Regions from separate parts of the Homo sapiens genome. Here region 1 is linked to region 2. The links come from fine-mapping of genetic effects on gene expression. A gene starts in region 2. The other region holds a variant in brackets. All regions are shown on one strand. Distances are from middle to middle.

The links. PIP is the estimated chance that this variant, and not a neighbour inherited with it, causes the effect.
Region 1: its variant is fine-mapped to the expression of PXDN in whole blood (TOPMed, PIP 0.94).

The regions. Positions count from the first base shown.
Region 1 is chr2:1,818,927-1,827,665 of GRCh38, reverse strand. All of the region lies in intron 21 of MYT1L (myelin transcription factor 1 like), which reads left to right. LOC124905967 (a long non-coding RNA gene) reads right to left here and starts at 4,121. Exons shown (of 4, transcript XR_007086192.1): 1 at 4,037-4,121; 2 at 2,696-3,371. RefSeq lists an enhancer at 1,016-1,573. The variant G/A (reference allele first, on the strand shown) is at 3,574.
Region 2 is chr2:1,740,063-1,748,662 of GRCh38, reverse strand. It overlaps PXDN (peroxidasin), which reads left to right and starts at 4,148. Exons shown (of 23, transcript NM_012293.3): 1 at 4,148-4,407. The coding sequence starts at 4,208.

The sequences.
Region 1 (8,739 bases), 79 kb before region 2:
AAGTCTCTGATGATGATTCCAAATTCCACATCATCAGGGAATAAATATTTTGTGTGTCAGCAATGCTGATCCCTGCCGTAGACAGAGCCCTGGGGCCGTGTCACCTCAGAATGTTCCTCCAGGACTCTCCTGGCGCTCCCTGGATGCTCCCCTTTTCCCAACCAGAGAGGTCCCCTCAACTCTCTGAGATCCCCTTCTAGGCAGAGGGTGGCGGGAATGAGGACCACATTGCCAGGGGCTCCTCCAGGCCCGGTGGGAGCTTTCTGTTTGACCCAGGCATGTTTCAATGGCATACCTTGTTTTATAACACAGGAAGAAAGTTCTCCTGAGCTCTGGGTCCCTCTGTGATCTGCAGGAGGTGGAAGGGAGGGTGGCCCCAGCCCAGGAGTAAATGCAGCACAAGGGAGGGAGACAGAGAGCATTTCCATCCAGGGCTGAACCCTGCCGTGCCCCAGCTCCTACGAAGCCCCATGCCCCCATTCTGGGCTGGCAGCCCCTCACTATCAGCCCTTCAGTCATCTGGCCAGGTCACCACCTCAGGGAAAAGAGAGGAAATGTTGCTGCGCTGTGTCCAGGCCGTGATCTCTAGTCCTGGAGGCCAGGCAGGTTGACCCATCCAGAGCCCTGCAGGATGGGGAGGGGTCTGGGGCACCAGCAGGGGTGGGGATTGCTAAAGTGAGATCCTCGCCAGGATGCGCCTCCTCCTGCATCTGCTCTGGAGAAAGCAGGACTCAGTCAGTGAGCCCCACCCCACCCCACCACCTGCTCTCATGAGGAACCTCACTTCTGAGAATTACATTCCCGACCCCCACCCCATGCTCCCCCTGCCCCCACGCCACTCCTGTGGAAAACTGGCCTTACTGAACCACTTTACAAGGAAGCCTTCAGGGACTTGACTTCTCTGACCTTTGGAGTCAGCTCCCTGCTCTGCCTCAGGCCCAGACACCCTCCAAGGGGAGCCCTCCGCTTTCCCCGACGCCGGCCCTGCACTGACCCGGTACCCGGTGCTGCGTCCTAAAAGCACCTCAGACCCTTTGCTTCTTTTCCTTTAATCTCCATCTTTTAGTGTTTGACGGGAAGCAATTGGGAGGGAAAGAGTCAGATTCAACATCTGTCTCGAACTGTGAATCCCAAAGGGCCCTGTGAATAGCAGCAGGGAGAGGTGACATCTGGTCAACCTCCTCTGCCTGAAACAACCCAGTGTTCTGGCCCAGCGCTGACCAGGGTGGAGCGCGACCCTGCTTTGTTTTTGCAGGAAGATTCCCTCCTGAAGCACTCCCACATTCGCCCGCCCCCCAGCCCTCCCCAGGACCTGGCAAGCATTCAGCAGATGCTGAATGAAAGCACTGAGCTTCAGCAGGGCCCTCTGCGCCAGCGCAGGAAGCCGAACTGTGTCCCATGCCCGAGCACCGTGCCGGTCTTCTAGTTTGTTCTCCAAAGTGGCACAAACAAAGCAGCTTAAACCCAGGCCCTGTCATTAGCTCAGTTTTCCCATGGTGGAAGCCCAGGCTGGCCTAAGGGGGTCCTCTGCAGGTGGCGTCCCCCCTGGAGCTCACAGTCCAACTCACAGCTCATGCGGGTTCCTGGCAGAACTCAGCTCCTGAGCTTGCAGCTGTCAGGCCCGACTGTCCTGCTGGACGTTGGGCAGAGTCGTCCTCCGCGGATGAGGCCCCCAGGTCCTGGCCACACAGCCGGTGGCCTCACTGCTTGGCAGCTGGGCTGGGGTCTCATAGGATGTCACCCCATCATGGGGGCAATGACTATACTGTGTTCACAGGACCATCCACACTCAAGGACAGAGGCCCACGCACGGCAGGTGCACACGGGGAGACTTTGGGGCCACCTTAGCATTCTGCCCACTGGAAGGGGACTATCCAGCCACTGCGCTAGGATCTTCAGAGAAATAAAAATTTCAAGACAGTCTCTGTCCCAAGAAACTTAGCCTGTTATAATTTTATAGGGAAAACCAATATACAAACAAAAAATTAACAGTACAAACAAATAGGATCATTCTTATATCCAATAAAGAGATGGGGAACCTGATCTTTTAAAAGCGGGTTCCCATATGTGAATTAATCTCAATTAAACAAACAAAAAACTTTGACGTTCTCATAATTAGTGTGAAGCTAAGACTGTAATTCCAATCTTTTGATTTCTCCAAATAATTTCTAATAAACATAATATTACTTGATTCTTAAGGGAAGAGTAAGTAGGTTTTCAGGAGTATGCCAACTTTTTAATGGAATTATGTTATAACATGTAAATTCTACCAATGTATCTGTTTTCTGTAACTGAACTAATTTCTGTCTCCTCCTCTACTGTATGGTGAGAGCTTGCTCGCCATAACTAGGTCGCTGTGGTGCCTCCCCCCCATCTTCATCCCAGGTGCACCTTTGGGGCAGGTGGCAGCTCCTGGGGGGCCCCTTTCCCTGCCAAAGCACCAGCCTCATGGGCAGCTCCTCCACCTTCCCGGCTCCCAGCCCTGAGGCCTCTCTGTGTCTGTCGCCATCAGGAAGGCAGGGGAGTGGCGTGTCTGAGGTCTCTTTCCCCAGCTCCATGTTGCTCTCAGGGGAAAGGGAGAAAGTCTGGCTCTCAGGCCACTCTCTGAGGACCCACAGGCATCCAAACCCCTTACTCCTCTCCCTCCTGTCCTCTCCCTTCTCTGTCTCCTCCCTGGAGATTCCTCCACCGCTACCTGATGGGGATGCATCCTTCCAAATCTATGGCTGCTGCCAGGAGTTCCTCCTATCTCTGGGATGTGTCATCCACAAAGCGAAGCCTTTGAAACGCAAATGCCTTTTTCTCTGATTTTCGCTTCTAACAGCTGTTCCTTGAAGCACCAAATGCTAGCCAAAATGGTGGTAAAATGCATAAGAAGAACAAATTATGCATCAGCCGGGATACTGCGGAGTCCTCCCCCTCTCTCTCCTCTGGATGACTCAATATGCATCAGCCGGGATACTGCGGAGTCCTCCTCCACTCTCTCCTCTCGACAACTCGCTGCACGGATCCATCCCTGAGTGCTGGTCAGTGCTCCCCAAAGGAGCCGCAGAGGGCGGCGTCCCGGCGCCACCCTCGCATGGCCTGGCCGGGGTGTCACAGGCTGGCCCCTGAGTTCTCACAGGGCCCAGGGCACAAACTTCAGGACGAGAGCAGCTCAAATGCAGAGGCCCATGCCCCTCTCCTCCCTGTGCTCAGCCTTCTCTGGGATCCGAGCTCTCCGTCCAGGCTGGCGCTGACGTCAGACATGTTCTGGCCTCTATCCTGCCAGCCTTCTCAGCACTCTGGGTTGGAGGGAACATTCCAGGAAGGCAGTATTTCCCAGAGGACAGAGCACCGCCCTGCTCTGCTGGGCACAAAATTACCTAACCCTAGAGAGACGTGGAGAAAATACCAAACTGAATCTACATTACAGATTGTTGGAAGAATTGGTTGGGGTCATGTATCTAAAATGCTTAATGCAGGCTCCTAAGCATAGGAATATGTTTAGTAAGTCTAGTCTGCTTTATTAGCTATTATTTAAATTTGTTCCATAGCAAGAATCACTCTCTGTTTAGAATCCAAACTAAAAAC[G/A]TTCCCCAACCCCCATGGAGAGGGCTTGGCACGTTCCCTAAAAAGTCACTGAGCATCCCACATCACCTCTGCCCGGCGGCCCCGCTGGGGGGGGAGGCGCGGCCTCATCCCATGGGTCGTGCCAGGGACGGCGAGGCCCAGGCCAACACTGTGCCACGTAATGGTCACTGGACACCTGAGACTACTCAGCTCTTGAAGTTTGGCTCCTGTGACAGAGAACTTTTAAAAATTGTTAGATTTCAGTAAATATAAATGTAAATTTGACCACACGGGACGAGGGCCGCCACCACTGGCAGTGCAGGGCTGAACACGCCTCCAGCCACGGATCTTCCTACAGGGACCCAGCCTCATCGCTGCTCGTGCCAGGAGCCTGACCCACCTGCAGGGCTGAACATGCGGCCAGCCACGGGTCTTCCTACAGGCACTCAGCCTCATCGCTGCTCCTCCCAGGAGCACGACCCACCTGCAGGGCTGAACATGCAGCCAGCTGAGGGTCTTCCTGCAGGCACCCAGCCTCGTCACTGCTTCTCCCAGGAGCCTGACCCAAGCCCCGCCTGCAGCCTTCGCTTCCGTCCTGGGGGAGCTGCTCAGAGGCTGCCCTCCAGCGTCAACCACACCCACTCCAGCCCACTGCCTGCTCCCTCCTCCAGGACCCCGGAGCCGAAGCCCTGAGCCAGATAGGGTGGACCTGAGTGCCCCAAGTGGAGAGAAGGCTACAACTACAGCTGCCACAGCTATATCTATGACAATGAAGGTTGCAGCCACAACCACAGCAACAACAGCCTCACAGCCACAGCTCTGACAACAGCAGCAACAGCCCTCACTACCACAACCACCACGACTATAACAGCCAGCACCACCAGCTGGGTGCCCCTGCTGGGTCTGCCTGGGGAGGCCAAGCTGCCACAGGGCTGTGCAGCAGGACAGGTGTCTCCTCATTGAGGATCTTTTCCTCCCACGTGTCGATGCCATTTGAGGAGCTTAGGGCAAAAGCTCACATTTGCAGAAGAGTTATGGTTCACATGTTAAAAAGAAAACGAGGTGCAATAAGGTCCCTTTCACAGGTGTAGGGGCCAGGCCATCAACATATCCCTTCAGGAGACACAGCCAAGCCACAGCAGTGATAACGTTAACAACCGAGGCTCCTGAGAGGCAAGCAAAAGGAGAAACAAAACTAAACATTTCCCTTCTGCTAGGATTACACTCAGTCCTCAGCAGCAAGCAGCTGCTCCTGAGAAAGAGAAACCCTCCAGGAGAGGAGGGTTTCACTGTGGACACAGCAGCCCTGGTGAGGCAGTGGCTCCTTCACAGGAGAGGAGGGTTTCACCGTGGACACAGCAGCAGCCATGAGGCGGTGGCTTCTGACTGCCAGGGACCCAGATATCCGGGTCCTGCACCTCAGCCCCTGACACTCGGAGACCACCTCAGGGTGAGTTTGCTACCACAACAGCCATCCTGTCCCTGGAGGAAGGAAGGGGACCCTCTCGAAGGACACAGGCTGTAGGCCACACTTCTGCCTCCACCCTCAGATCCATGTGGTCCCAGGGCCAGCCCTCGCCATCCTGTGGCAGCCAAGTGCCTGCTGAGCACGCAGGAGCATCCCTGGGGAAGAGGGGCTGACAGTGGACACACCCTGCGCTCTCCAGGAAACAGACCCAACCCACACAAAGATGGCAGACACCTTGCAGAAAGGTGCACGTGTGTTCCTCAATACTGGGTTTATTAGGCATCTCTATTGGGAATCCTAGCCAAGCTCTGCAGACTGAAATCACATATATCTCCACTAAATCTTAAAACACTACTAAAATGACCCACTCTCCTCTTATAAACCCACAAATATAATGCAACTAAATAACTAAATAAGGAAGGGAAGTGCAGACCATCCCATCCACAAAGCACTGGGAGCCGCCCAGCCCAAGCACACATGGCTCAGGCCTCAGCTCCCTGCAGAGGAGCTGTTGGGGAGGGAGAGGATGGGGGTGGAGAGAAAGAGTGAAGAAAGAACCCAGAAAAAGAGGAGTGAAGAGCATGCAGAACCTCCATAGAAAAGAGGCTGGGACCTAGAGTGGGGATTCAGAGTTGGTCGGAAAACAGAGGAGTAGTTGAATTGTCTAAGAGGGGTTCGACTCCCGGATGCCCTGCCACAGGCCTCCTTCTCCCCGGCAGAAGGATAAGCTAGAACAGAAGCTCTGGAGCTAGTGCTAGGAAGAGCTGGAAACAGGATGAGCCGTTGTACTGAAGATGGGAACGTCAAGTGAGATGGACAGGCCCCAAGGCCTTGGTCCCGTGTGGCTCCGGGAATCCAGCGGCTCCTCCTGCTCCTCTGCCTTCTCCACTCCCCGCCACTCCAGACAGAGCAGGGGCCTCTTCTCTAGAACCAACAGATTCAAGATAAAGGGCCTCCAGGCACCAATGTCTGGGATGTATGCGTGAACAGCCAAGGACTCCGGCCACTGAAGGCAAGCAGTAAACAACATGGCAGAAACCAAGCAAACAAACCAGCCTTACCAGGGGGCAAAAGAAGCTCAGAGGAAGCAGAAACATTTCTGGAAAGAGGAGCAATCTTTTTAAAAACCTATAATTTGTCATCAGACAGAAAAGAACAGAAAGAACATTAAAATATATTGTATTCATAACCCAAGAAACATTCAGAGAACACGAATATCTATTTTAAAAAATAAATAAAAAGTTTACTTTGAAAGTTAAAATGTAAAATTGAGGTAATGTCCCATAAATTATAAAGAGATGAGAAAAGAAGATAAAAGATTTTGTTAAAAAAAAATAAAGAATTCAGGAGAGTTAGTAATCAACTAATAGGAGTTTCTGAAGAAGTAGCGAGAGTAGAGCAAATGGAAGAAAGAAAATTCCCAAAGAAAGAAAACAAGGAAAATCCCCATGGCAGAGATCTTGAGTTTTCAGATATAAAGGCCTCGTTGAGTAGCCACGCAATCATGAAATGGTTCTATGTCGTCCGGGGCTCTACCTGAGAAGCAGGACCAGTAGGATTTATATATGGACGGGTTCATCACAAGGAACTGGCTGACACCATCTGGGACCGGCTCCACAAGTCCAAAATCTGTAGGGCAGACAGGCAGCCTAGAAACTCTTGTTCAGGAGAAGTTCCATTCCACAGGGAGAATTTCTTCTTCCTCGGGGAAACCTTAGTTATATTCTTAAGGTCTTTTGACTGCTTGAGTCCGGCCCACTGAGAGTATTGAGAATAATCTCCTTACTTAAAGTCAGCTAGGCCAAGTGTGGTGGCTCACACCTGTAATCCCAGTATTTAGGGAGGAGGACGCAGGAGGATCACTTGAGCCCAAGAGTTTAAGACCAACCTGGGCAACATGGCAAGACATCATCTCTACAAAAAATTTAAAAATTAACCAGGCATGGTGGTACATGGCTGTGGTCATAGCTATTTGGGAGGCTGAGGAGTGAGAATTGCTTGAGCCCAAGAGTTGGAGGCTGCAGTGAGTATGATCATGCCACTGAACTCCAGCCTAGGTAACAACAGCAAAACCCTGTCTCAACAACAACAACAACAACAACAAAAAGCCAACTGATGGTAGATGTTAGTCACTCTACAAAATACCTTCGCAGCAACACTTAGATAAGTATTTGATTAAACAACTGGATGCTGTGTCCTCTCCATGTTGACATATAAAACTGTCATAGCCAACCACACAGAGGTTCATCATCATGAAATTTTGAGAACCTGGAGTGGGGATACAGAGAAAGAGAGGGACAAACAGAGACAAAGTGAGAGACAAAAGAAAAGGAAGCTAAGAGATGTACTCAACAGCAATGCTGGAAACAAGAATCAAATAGAACAATGCCTTCAAAACTCTTAGGAAAATGATTGCACACTCAGTATTCTATACTCAACCAAACTATCAATTTGGAATGCAAAAGCAGCAAGCCCCATCCAATGGGTGACCAAGCCCCAGCCCTTCTTACTCCTCTTGAGTGGGTGCTCTCTTCTGAACCCATTGCTGCCTCAGGCTGTACTCCCTCATTCCTCCCCCAGGCCCCTCTGCCAGCTTCCTCGCTGGCCCCCCCCCACTGCCCTCTGCCCTCTGCAAGCATCCTCCAGGCTGCTGCCAGTGAGCTCTCTACCAAGCAAACTCTACTGTGTGGTTGCCAGGATTACATGCTTCCAATCCTTTGTCATTGCCTAGAAGCTAAATCCATTCTCCTCTGTAAGGCACTTGAGATCTTCCCTAATAAGCTCTTACCCATCCCTCCAGCTCCCTGCCTCTCTGCCCCTTGGTTGCACCCAGACCTAAATTCAAAGCTGAAGACATGCTGCTCAGGCTTCTTTGGCCCTTCCACTGCTCCTTGTCCTCTTCAAACAAATGTCTGTCTTTAAATACCCATGCGGACTCCACCTCCCTCTGTAATGCTGCAGAGCATCACATCATCGGACCATGTGCATCCCTGTAGGGCATGTGTATTCACAGGGGCCTCTGCCCGAACTGCACTGGCAGGGCCCGAGTGTAGCATCTGTCACTCACGGGTGCATGGAGAGAGGCTGCAGGAGGAGGAGTGGAGGGTGAGGCTGGTGCTGGATGGCCTGGGTATAAACTCAGCCCTGCCTTTTCTGACTGTATGGTCTGGGGCAAGTTAGCTGTTCTGCGTCTCGATTCTCTCCTCTGTAAAATGGGATGGTCATAGATTGTTTGAGCAGTGGGCCAAGTCTGAAGAGCATGCCAGCATGTGATAAGTAAAGCATTTACAGCAGCTCACCACTGCTGTTAGCATTGTCATGACCCTCCTGTTAGGACTGTGCTTGAGGACAGGAGGTAAGTGTTGCTGATGAGTGAATAGAGATAGGACGTTTGATGACCTATGGAAGTGGCTCTTCAAAACGTCTCTTCTCAGGCCTTCTTCTCCTAACAGTGTTTTGATTGTCACTGCCGAATAGCAGTGGCTCCAGAATCCATCCCTTGGGCAGGAGGCAGGTGGACTCCCTGGGCTGCAGGAATGAGCTGTGTGGGTAGCTGCCATCCCTCAGGCTTTGAGAGGGACCTTTGTTTCCTGAGGCAGGTGGACATGCACCCCAGTGGGAGGGACCTGGTCTGGGAGCTGGGAGCTGGGGGCCATCTGGGTGGTCACACGGCCACCCACAGCTGCACTTTCTGCACCACCTGCCTGTGTGGCTGTGGC
Region 2 (8,600 bases):
AGAGCTTCCAAAGCCCTTGGAATTTCCCCAGGGACAGGAGCGTGTGTATTCATGATGAGCTCCCAGCCATGTCTGAGCTGACGCTGATGAAGGAACACAGGATGGAGGCTGATCACTAGGACTGACCATGCGATTGTAGGGTGAAGTGTTTGGGCCTTGTGCTGTCAGCCTGACCTCCCTGGAGAGTTCAACCCCATGGACAGTGTGTCATCAGTCCTGCTTGAGCCATAAAACCCTGGTGAAAACTCTGGACACCAAAGCTCAGTAGAGCTTCCCTGTTGGTGATCATGTCCCTGTGCCGGGTGGTGATGGGCCCTGATCCCACAGGCCAGGCACAGAGGCTCTGCATTTGGGACCCTCCCTGACCTCACCTGATGTATTTCATTTGGAGGTTCAGATTGGTATCAATTATAATACAGCTGTATTTGTAACCACAGCACTTTCATCTGTTGTGTGGGTGGTTCCAGCAGGAGATGGAGCTGGAGGGGGTCTCAGAAACCTATGAATCTGTAACCAGTCAGAAGTGTGGATGGCCTGGGGACCACTGGACACACAGGTAGTATTAAAGTGAGGGCAGCCTTACTGAGGTCCATCCACATCTGTAACCTGCGGGGTCTGCTCTAGCTCCAGGTACTTAACAGCAGGACTGTACTGAAGTCTGCCTAGGACTCTGTCTCCTCCTCTGCTGAATATAATGTTTGCAGCTCCCACCCAGCATTCTGCCATTATGGAAATACAGAAGAAGCATTCTCACAAGCATCCCTGTTCTACACAAACTCAAGAGTGACACGTGGTAGGCAGCCTCTAAGATGGTCCCCAGTGGTTCTGTCTCATGTTCCTTACGCTCCCAGTTGATGCTCTGCTGTGGCATGTGCTGGACGCAAGAGCATCTGTGGATGGAATCCAGCAGGAGAGATGGCGTCCAGTGTGAGCTGGAACAACAGGAGGGTGTGGAGAGGATCCAGGAGGAGTGATGGCATCTGCATCTGGACCCACTGGTGTGTGTGCACAGGATCCTGCGGGGTGATGGCTGAACCCACTGGCGTGTGTGCACAGGATCCTGCGGGGTGATGGCTGAACTCACTGGAGTGTGTGCACAGGATCCTGCAGGGGTGATGGCACCCGGAGTCTAATCTGAACCCACTGGAGTGTGTGCACAGGATCCCGCAGGGGCGATGGCACCCGGAGTCTGAAATGAATCCTCTGGAGTGCGTGGACAGGACCCTGCAGGGGTGATGGCATCGGAATCTGAACTAAACCCACTCGAATGTGTGCGCAGGATCCCGCAGGGGCGATGGCACCCGGAGTCTAATCTGAACCCACTGGAGAGTGTGCGCAGGATCCCGCAGGGGCGATGGCATATGGAGTTTCAGCTGGACCTACTCGAGTGTGTGGATAGAATCTTGCAGGAGAGACGACATGTAGAATGTAAACTGGACTGAGTGGAGTGTATGGAGAGAATCCTGCAGGTGAGATGGCGTGTGCAGTGGGAAGCGGACCCACTGGAATCTTTGGGTGGGACCCAAACTCAACCACTGCTATGTGTAGACAGGATCTTTGAGGAGAGATGGCATCTGCAGTGTGAACCGAACCCACTGGAGTGTATGGATAGCATCTTGCAGGAGTGATGACATCTGCAGTGTGATCTGGACTGCCTCGAGTGTGTGGGTAGGATCCTGCAAGAGTGATGGCATGTGGAGTGAGCACTGCATCCACAGGACTGTGTGGACAGCAGCCTTCAGCAGTGATGATGTCTGCTGTGTGAAGTGGAGCACTGTAGTGTGTGGGTAGGGTCCTGCAGGAGAGATGGCAACTGGAGTGTGAACTGCACCCACTTGAGTGAGAGGTTGGGATGCTGCAGGTGGATGGCATTTGGAGTGTGAACTGGACCCACTTGAGTGTATGGGTAGGGTCCTGCAGGAGAGATGGCAACTGGAGTGTGAACTGGACCCACTGTTGTGCCTGGAGAGGATCCTGCAGAAGACAAGGCATCTGCAGTGTAAACTGGGCCACTGGGGTGTGTAGCTAGAATCATGCTGGAGTAACGGCTTCTGGACTGTGAGCTGGCCCCATTAAAGTGTGTGTATAGGATCCTGCAAAAGTGATAGCCTCTGGAGTGTGAATGGGACCCACTGAGGTGTGTGGATAGGATACTGCAGGGGTGATGGTGTCTGCAGTGTGAGCTGCAGCCCTGGGGCATGTGGATAGGACTCTGCAAAGAGACAGCATCTGTGGTGTGAATGGCACCGGTGGAATGTGTAGAGAGGATCCTGCAAAAGTGATGTCCTCTAGAGTGTGAACTGGACCCACTGGAGGGTGTGGACATCGTCCTGCAGGAGAGATGGCATCTAGAGTGTGAATGGCACCTCCGGAGTGTGTGGATAGGAGCCCGCAGGAGAGAGCACATGTAGAGCGTGAACTGGACCCACTGAAATGTGTGGACAGGATTCTGCAGAAGATACGGCATCCGGAGTGTGAAATGCACCACTAGTGTGTGTGCATAGAATCCTGCATAAGTTTTGGCATCTACAGTGTGAACTGGAGTCACTGGAATGTGTGAATAGGATCTTGCAGGAGAGATGTCTGCAGTGTGAGCTGGACCCACTTCTGTGTGTGGATAGTATCCTGCAGGAGAGATGTTGTCTGCAGTGTGAGCTGGGCCCACCGGAGTGTGTGAATAGGATCCTGCAGGAGAAATGGAATCCGGAGTGTGAGCTGCATCCGCTGTAGAGGGTGGATAAAATCCTGCAGGAAAGATGGCATCTGGAATGTCAGCGGGAGCCACCGACCTCTGAGGATGCACCCCGCAGGTGTGATGCGGGGCCAGTTCCAAGGCTGGGTTAGGTTTTACCCTGGCTTCTGTGTTGTACTCTCATTCTCTTCCTCTTTCTTCTAATACCTGCTCTGGGAGGCATCAGGCCATGTCCAGTGTGCAGGCCATGGAGACCCACACGGCAAGGAACTGGAACCCCCTGCCAGCAGCCTCGGGGGTCCAGTCCTTAGATGGTGCCCTGTGGTCAGCAATGCACCTGTGACCTCCGGGCTATGTCTCGTGGTAGTTGCTTTTGTGTTTTAACATAGCAACAGGAAACTAGCCTATTACCCACCAATCCCATTCCAGGCTGCTTTCAAACGCAGCTCAGGCTAGAACACCAGCACGGGGACACAGCTGAGACTTGGGGTTTGCGACGGGAACACGCCCATGCTGTGCCTCTGAATCTGGCACCGTCACCCTGTGGCCTGGGTTCAGCAACTTGGCCTCACCTTCCTTGTCTGTGAAATTCAGACTGGGTCCTTGTGAGATGATTGGAGAGAATGTATGAACTATGTGAGAACGCCACCTTTGTGCGTATCTCACGCAGTGTCTTCCCTCCTTTCCAAAGTCTTCTGCTGTCTCTAGACACACCCGACGTGGGGGGGGGGGGTTCCCTGGGTCTCCTCCTAGGTCTGTCCCAGGAGGGCACGCACTGAAGGCCGCGAGAATCCCGGGGGCTGCATTGCGCCGCGCCAAGGACTCCACACAGGACCTTTCATTTTCCCAACTGTGCTGAGCCAGGCGGCCGGCAGAGAGCAGGTGGCTGACAGGCCCCGGGGAGCCGGACCGCCTGGGTCTAATCTTCCCGCAGACTCCCTTGCTGTGCGCTTTGGGGCTTGGGCCTCAGTTTCCTCAAAAGGAATGAGGGGCTTTTTTGGAACGTTAAATAATTTCCTACGTGGTTGCGGGTAGGGAGAAGGAGAAAGAGAGGAGCGCGCCTGCGCGCCTGGAATCGTGCCCGGATCAGAGCAAGCGCTCTAAAAGTGTTACAAACATTAAGGCGCCAACTAAAAAACCCGTAGTGAGCGCAGGCAGAAACCACGGGTAAGAGAAGTGGAGAAGCTTCGCGTAGGCCCCAGGGTCCCGAGCCCCGAGTCTCGAGCGCAGAATCAGGGGTGCCAATGCTCTCCTCCGCGCCCCCGAGCGCTCGCCTTGGCCATGCGGGCCGCCCCACCGGGATGAGGGCGCTCAGGCCGGACGCTGGGGCCCCGGGTTCTCGCCCCGCCCCGCCCTCGGGGATTCAGAGGGGCCGGGAGGAGCCTCGCGCATGTGCACAGCTGGCGCCCCCCGCCCCCCGCGCACAGCTGGGACGTGGGCCGCGGCCGGGCGGGCGCAGTCGGGAGCCGGCCGTGGTGGCTCCGTGCGTCCGAGCGTCCGTCCGCGCCGTCGGCCATGGCCAAGCGCTCCAGGGGCCCCGGGCGCCGCTGCCTGTTGGCGCTCGTGCTGTTCTGCGCCTGGGGGACGCTGGCCGTGGTGGCCCAGAAGCCGGGCGCAGGGTGTCCGAGCCGCTGCCTGTGCTTCCGCACCACCGTGCGCTGCATGCATCTGCTGCTGGAGGCCGTGCCCGCCGTGGCGCCGCAGACCTCCATCCTGTGAGTGCCGCGGGGGACGCCGGGGGCGCGGGGTCCGGGGCTTCGTGGAGATCCGGGAGCGCAGGGGTGATCGGAGGTGGGGGGCGCGGAGGGTGGAGGGGGCATCGGGCGCGCGGGGGGCCTGGGGACTTGGGACGCAGAAGGGAACCTCCGAAGGGGGACGTGGGGGGACCTGGGCGCGGGGACCCGCTGGGCCTTTGTTCGCCCTGCGGGAGACGCCGAGGGGCGGAACAGAGCGCTGTGCGCGCGGCCTTCGTAGCCGCCTTTGTTCGGAACTCGGAATCCCCGCAGGACTGGGAAGTTGTTGGAGCCTCCGGGGCTCCCCCCGCTCGCCTCCCGCCGCCCCCTCTCATGCTCCGCCGGCCTCCCGCTTCCCCCTGGTTCGCGGCCCCTCCTCCGCTCACCTTTCCCCCGCTCAGGACCCCTCGGTCCCCCTCCGCTCCCCGAGCGCGGCGCAGCCCCCTCCGTCCTCCCAGCCCCCTCCGCCCCGTTCCTCGTCCTGTTCGCTCCCCTCCTCCGCTCCTCTTCCTCCTCCCCTTCCTCCTCCTCCTCCCCTTCCTCCTCCTCCTCCCCTTCCTCCTCCTCCTCCCTTCCCCTCCTCCTCCCCCCCTTCCTTCTCCTCCCCCAGCCTCCGCCCTCTCCCCCTCCCCCGCCCCTTGGAGCGCAGTGCCCACCCCATCCCCCCGCGCCGGGGAAGCCTCCCCAGAGGAGCCTCAGTTCCCGCAGCCGCGGCGCCCCCGCTCCCAGTGCCCCCGCATCTGCCCGGAGCGTCCTCTCCTGGGGTGTCCTGGGGGCCCCGCGCTTCTCAGGGGCTTTTCCTGCGCCCGGAGCGAGCCGGGCGGCCGGGGTTCCCGAGAGGGGCCGCGCGGTAGTCTCGGGGCAGCCCGGGTCTAGATGGAGCCGGGACTCAGAGCGGGTTTCTGCCTCGGGCATTTCTCTTCTTTCGCTTCTAATCCACGCGAGCGTGTTCGCAGTTGCGCTATACGTTTAACCGGATGCGTTGCGTTGGGGTTGACACCCTGTCCTGCGGGCCGTCCCGCGTCACGGTCTCCACAGCAGGAATCCCCATCCCTCCGCCCCGCGGCTCCAGGTACCGAGATGCCGCCAGAGTTCGCTGCAGGCCTCCTGTGTTCTGAAGCGAGTCGGATTCAACATTTTCGGGATCTGTGAACGCGGGCTGCGTTTCAGGCGCCGACTCTAATTTAGTCCTGTAGCGACTTTTCTGCATGCCAAAAATAGTTTTCACGTTTCTTAGCTGAGCCAGAGGACTTTTTGGCACCAGCAAAGAGTCTGCAAAAGTTGTAAAAAAATTGAGTGAACAATTCAGGAAGTGGGCGGCCAGTGCGCCTACCTCCGAAACAAAGTGCTGGGACAGACCACGGCTCCCAGGGGTCGCCGAGTTTGCAGGCTGCTTCCTGGAGGCCCTGGGGCGGGGCGGGGGCCCGAGTTCCTCTCCTCCTCCGCAGAGAGACCAAGGCTTTCTTTCCAGAGCCCGTGAATGGTCAGCCCAGGCCGGACGACTCGGGGGCATCTCACTCAACAGCAGTGGACTTTTAGAATGGAGCCGGGTGAGGTTTCCCTGGGTCTGGATAATGTAATTCTTGCTGAGCCAGTGGAAAAATGGCACCTCAAAGATTTTTCCCATCTGGTCAGTTTCATAAAGCTTGCGGTATGTTTTGCCCCGGAATATTAATTGCTTGTTGAAAATAACATGTTAAAATAAGTGTCGTAGGACACACATGGGGTCCTCTGCTCCGCTTTGCATGGTGTGCTCGTCCACAAACGCCTCACCGAATTTGAAAAAGGAGCTGAGAGTAGACGGGTGACATCATCGTCCACTCGCACAACACTTCCTCATAGGGTACATTTGCATCCATTTCTATCTTAAACTTTCAGGGGTTTTTGCAGTCTTCAGTGATACTTCGAAATGTCGCTGTTGAGTCACGTTGATTCTGTGAGGCAGGTAGACTGGTAGCTGTTAAGTTGATCGAATCCCTTATAGAACTAAACACTTTACTGGAGAAATGAACATACCCATTTTCTGGCGGTGGAAACAGAAGCTCTGGGAGAGAAGCGCAGCTCCTGACGCTATTCCTGTGGCCAAGAGGAGGAGCGTAGCGCTGGTGGCCAGAATGGAGTCCTGGCTGGATGCATTGCAGCCGCGTGATTTTTAGCAAGTCCCGTGTCTCCTGGGAGAACGTGAGGGTGTAGCTGTGCGGACCTAGGCACAGTGGACAGGTGTCATGAGCGAGCGCTAGTGAGTGCAGCCTGGGGAGGCAGGGACTGAGGGAAGAGGGAGACCTATTCTGCGGGGATATCCTGTTGAGGGGTCTCTGGGGGCATGGTCTGGTAGGCTGTTGCTTGAGATGACACAGTTCTACATGATACATGCTACACGTGAAGCAACATTTCATGTCCACTTTCGGCTTTCTCCCAGGACTGTGCTCTCATGTATATGTGATTATTTTCTATTACAATTTTTTGGTAGAAATTGGGAATATACTATATATGAAAATTTAAAAAAAAACCTGCCCCAAAGTTAGTTGGCTCATCCAACCATCACACCGTCCCTTTGCTTTTAGAGACTCACCTCCATCCCAGTCCCCCAAAAGATTAAATCAGAGCCATTGGAAAACATCTTATTGCTCCTTCCCCTCAAATGCTCCAGGAGTGTGTTTAAGCGGGTCTGATACTGGGTTGTTTGATTTGTGGCTTGGGGGCTTTGGAAAACAGTGGAATAAGCCCATCCATGACTCAGTTTGGATCGACCTTTGAGCTCCCTCAGCTGCAAGTGTGAAGGGAGCTCTGGAATGGCAGGAGCCCGCGCCCTGTGCTGCTCGGTCGGCGGTTTGGCCTTGCTGTTGGGTCTCCTGCAGAGCGCCTCCCCTCTGGAGGCCTTACTTAGTTCAGCTGTGTAGAAATGGTTGGTTTTTGAATACAGAATCATTCTGTACCCAACACAATAGAAGTTCATCACAATGGTAGTTCAAAGCTAGTATTAAAGATAAAGTATGCCGTTGTACGCCCCTTCCTTTCCTCCTCTCAACCCCAGGCTTTTTGGGGAGGTCACATTTGAAACATTCTTCTTCACGGTCACGCCGCTAGGGTGCTGGCTGGACACACTGGAGCTAGGCCCTCCACGCCCTCCTCCTGTCCTGCCTTCCTCTCTTCCCTGGAGCCGCCACGGTTGAGGCTATGGTCATGGATTCATCAAAACTAACATCCTCACCACAGTCCAGGCCGCTGCAAAGCCATGAGTTGTCCCAAACTGCAGTTCTGTGACAGAAACCCTGACATTGGAGGGGTCTGGGCATGTGGAGCTTGGGGTGGGCTCAGGGAGGTCGCATTGCAGAGAAACCACAGGCAGGCGCATGGCAGCCAGGGCGGGGCCTCCTCTCCTGCAGAATCTCCAGACAGCTGCTCCTCATTCTCAGTTTTTCTCACCATCTGCTGGGTGTTAGGCCCACGCCGTGTGCTGGGTGTTGGGCCACCCACAGAAAACGAGACCGGAATCTTGCCCTCATGGAATCCCCAGTCCAGTGGGGCCCCCAGAGAGTCAGGGGGCTTCCTGGGAGTGGTAAGATGACCCCAGGTGTGTGCAGTCCTGGTGGGACGGGGTATGGGGAAAGGGCGCACAGTGCTTGGGACCCTGCACTCTTGGTGGTCTGGACTGAGTGGACCAGCCCACCTCCCGGCCTGTGTTCACATGAGCAGAAGGTTCCAGTGTTGCTGCTCTGTGGGTCTCCTCCCGCCTGCAGGCCCCCCAGGCCCTCTGGGGGCTCTGGGAGTCTATGGGCTCATAGTCCATAGGTGGGAGTGGGTGTTTGGGCCTTTTAACTGACTTCCTGTGTCTAGGAGACTGCGTCGCCTGAGTGAGTCACATGGGTCCCGAGGTTCATCCTTGGAGCTTCCCTGACCTCCCTTGGAGAACTGGCTGCCTTTCGGAGAGGACCTCTCCTCCTCACACGCAGATAGAGGTCACAGGGTGTTTGTTGCCTGGCACTCAGGGAGCCGGCTGGCTGGTGCTGCAGAGGGGCCCGCCTGCCGGGGACTCCCTGGCTGTCCACCCTCAGCACTTCCCATGCCCTCCTCCTCCTCTGCACCCTCCTGCTCCCGGGAAGTTCCCTCACATCTGACTGCGTCTTCTGGGAGTACCCGCGGTCCCGGGACGCCAGGCCTCTCCTCCTTTGGGC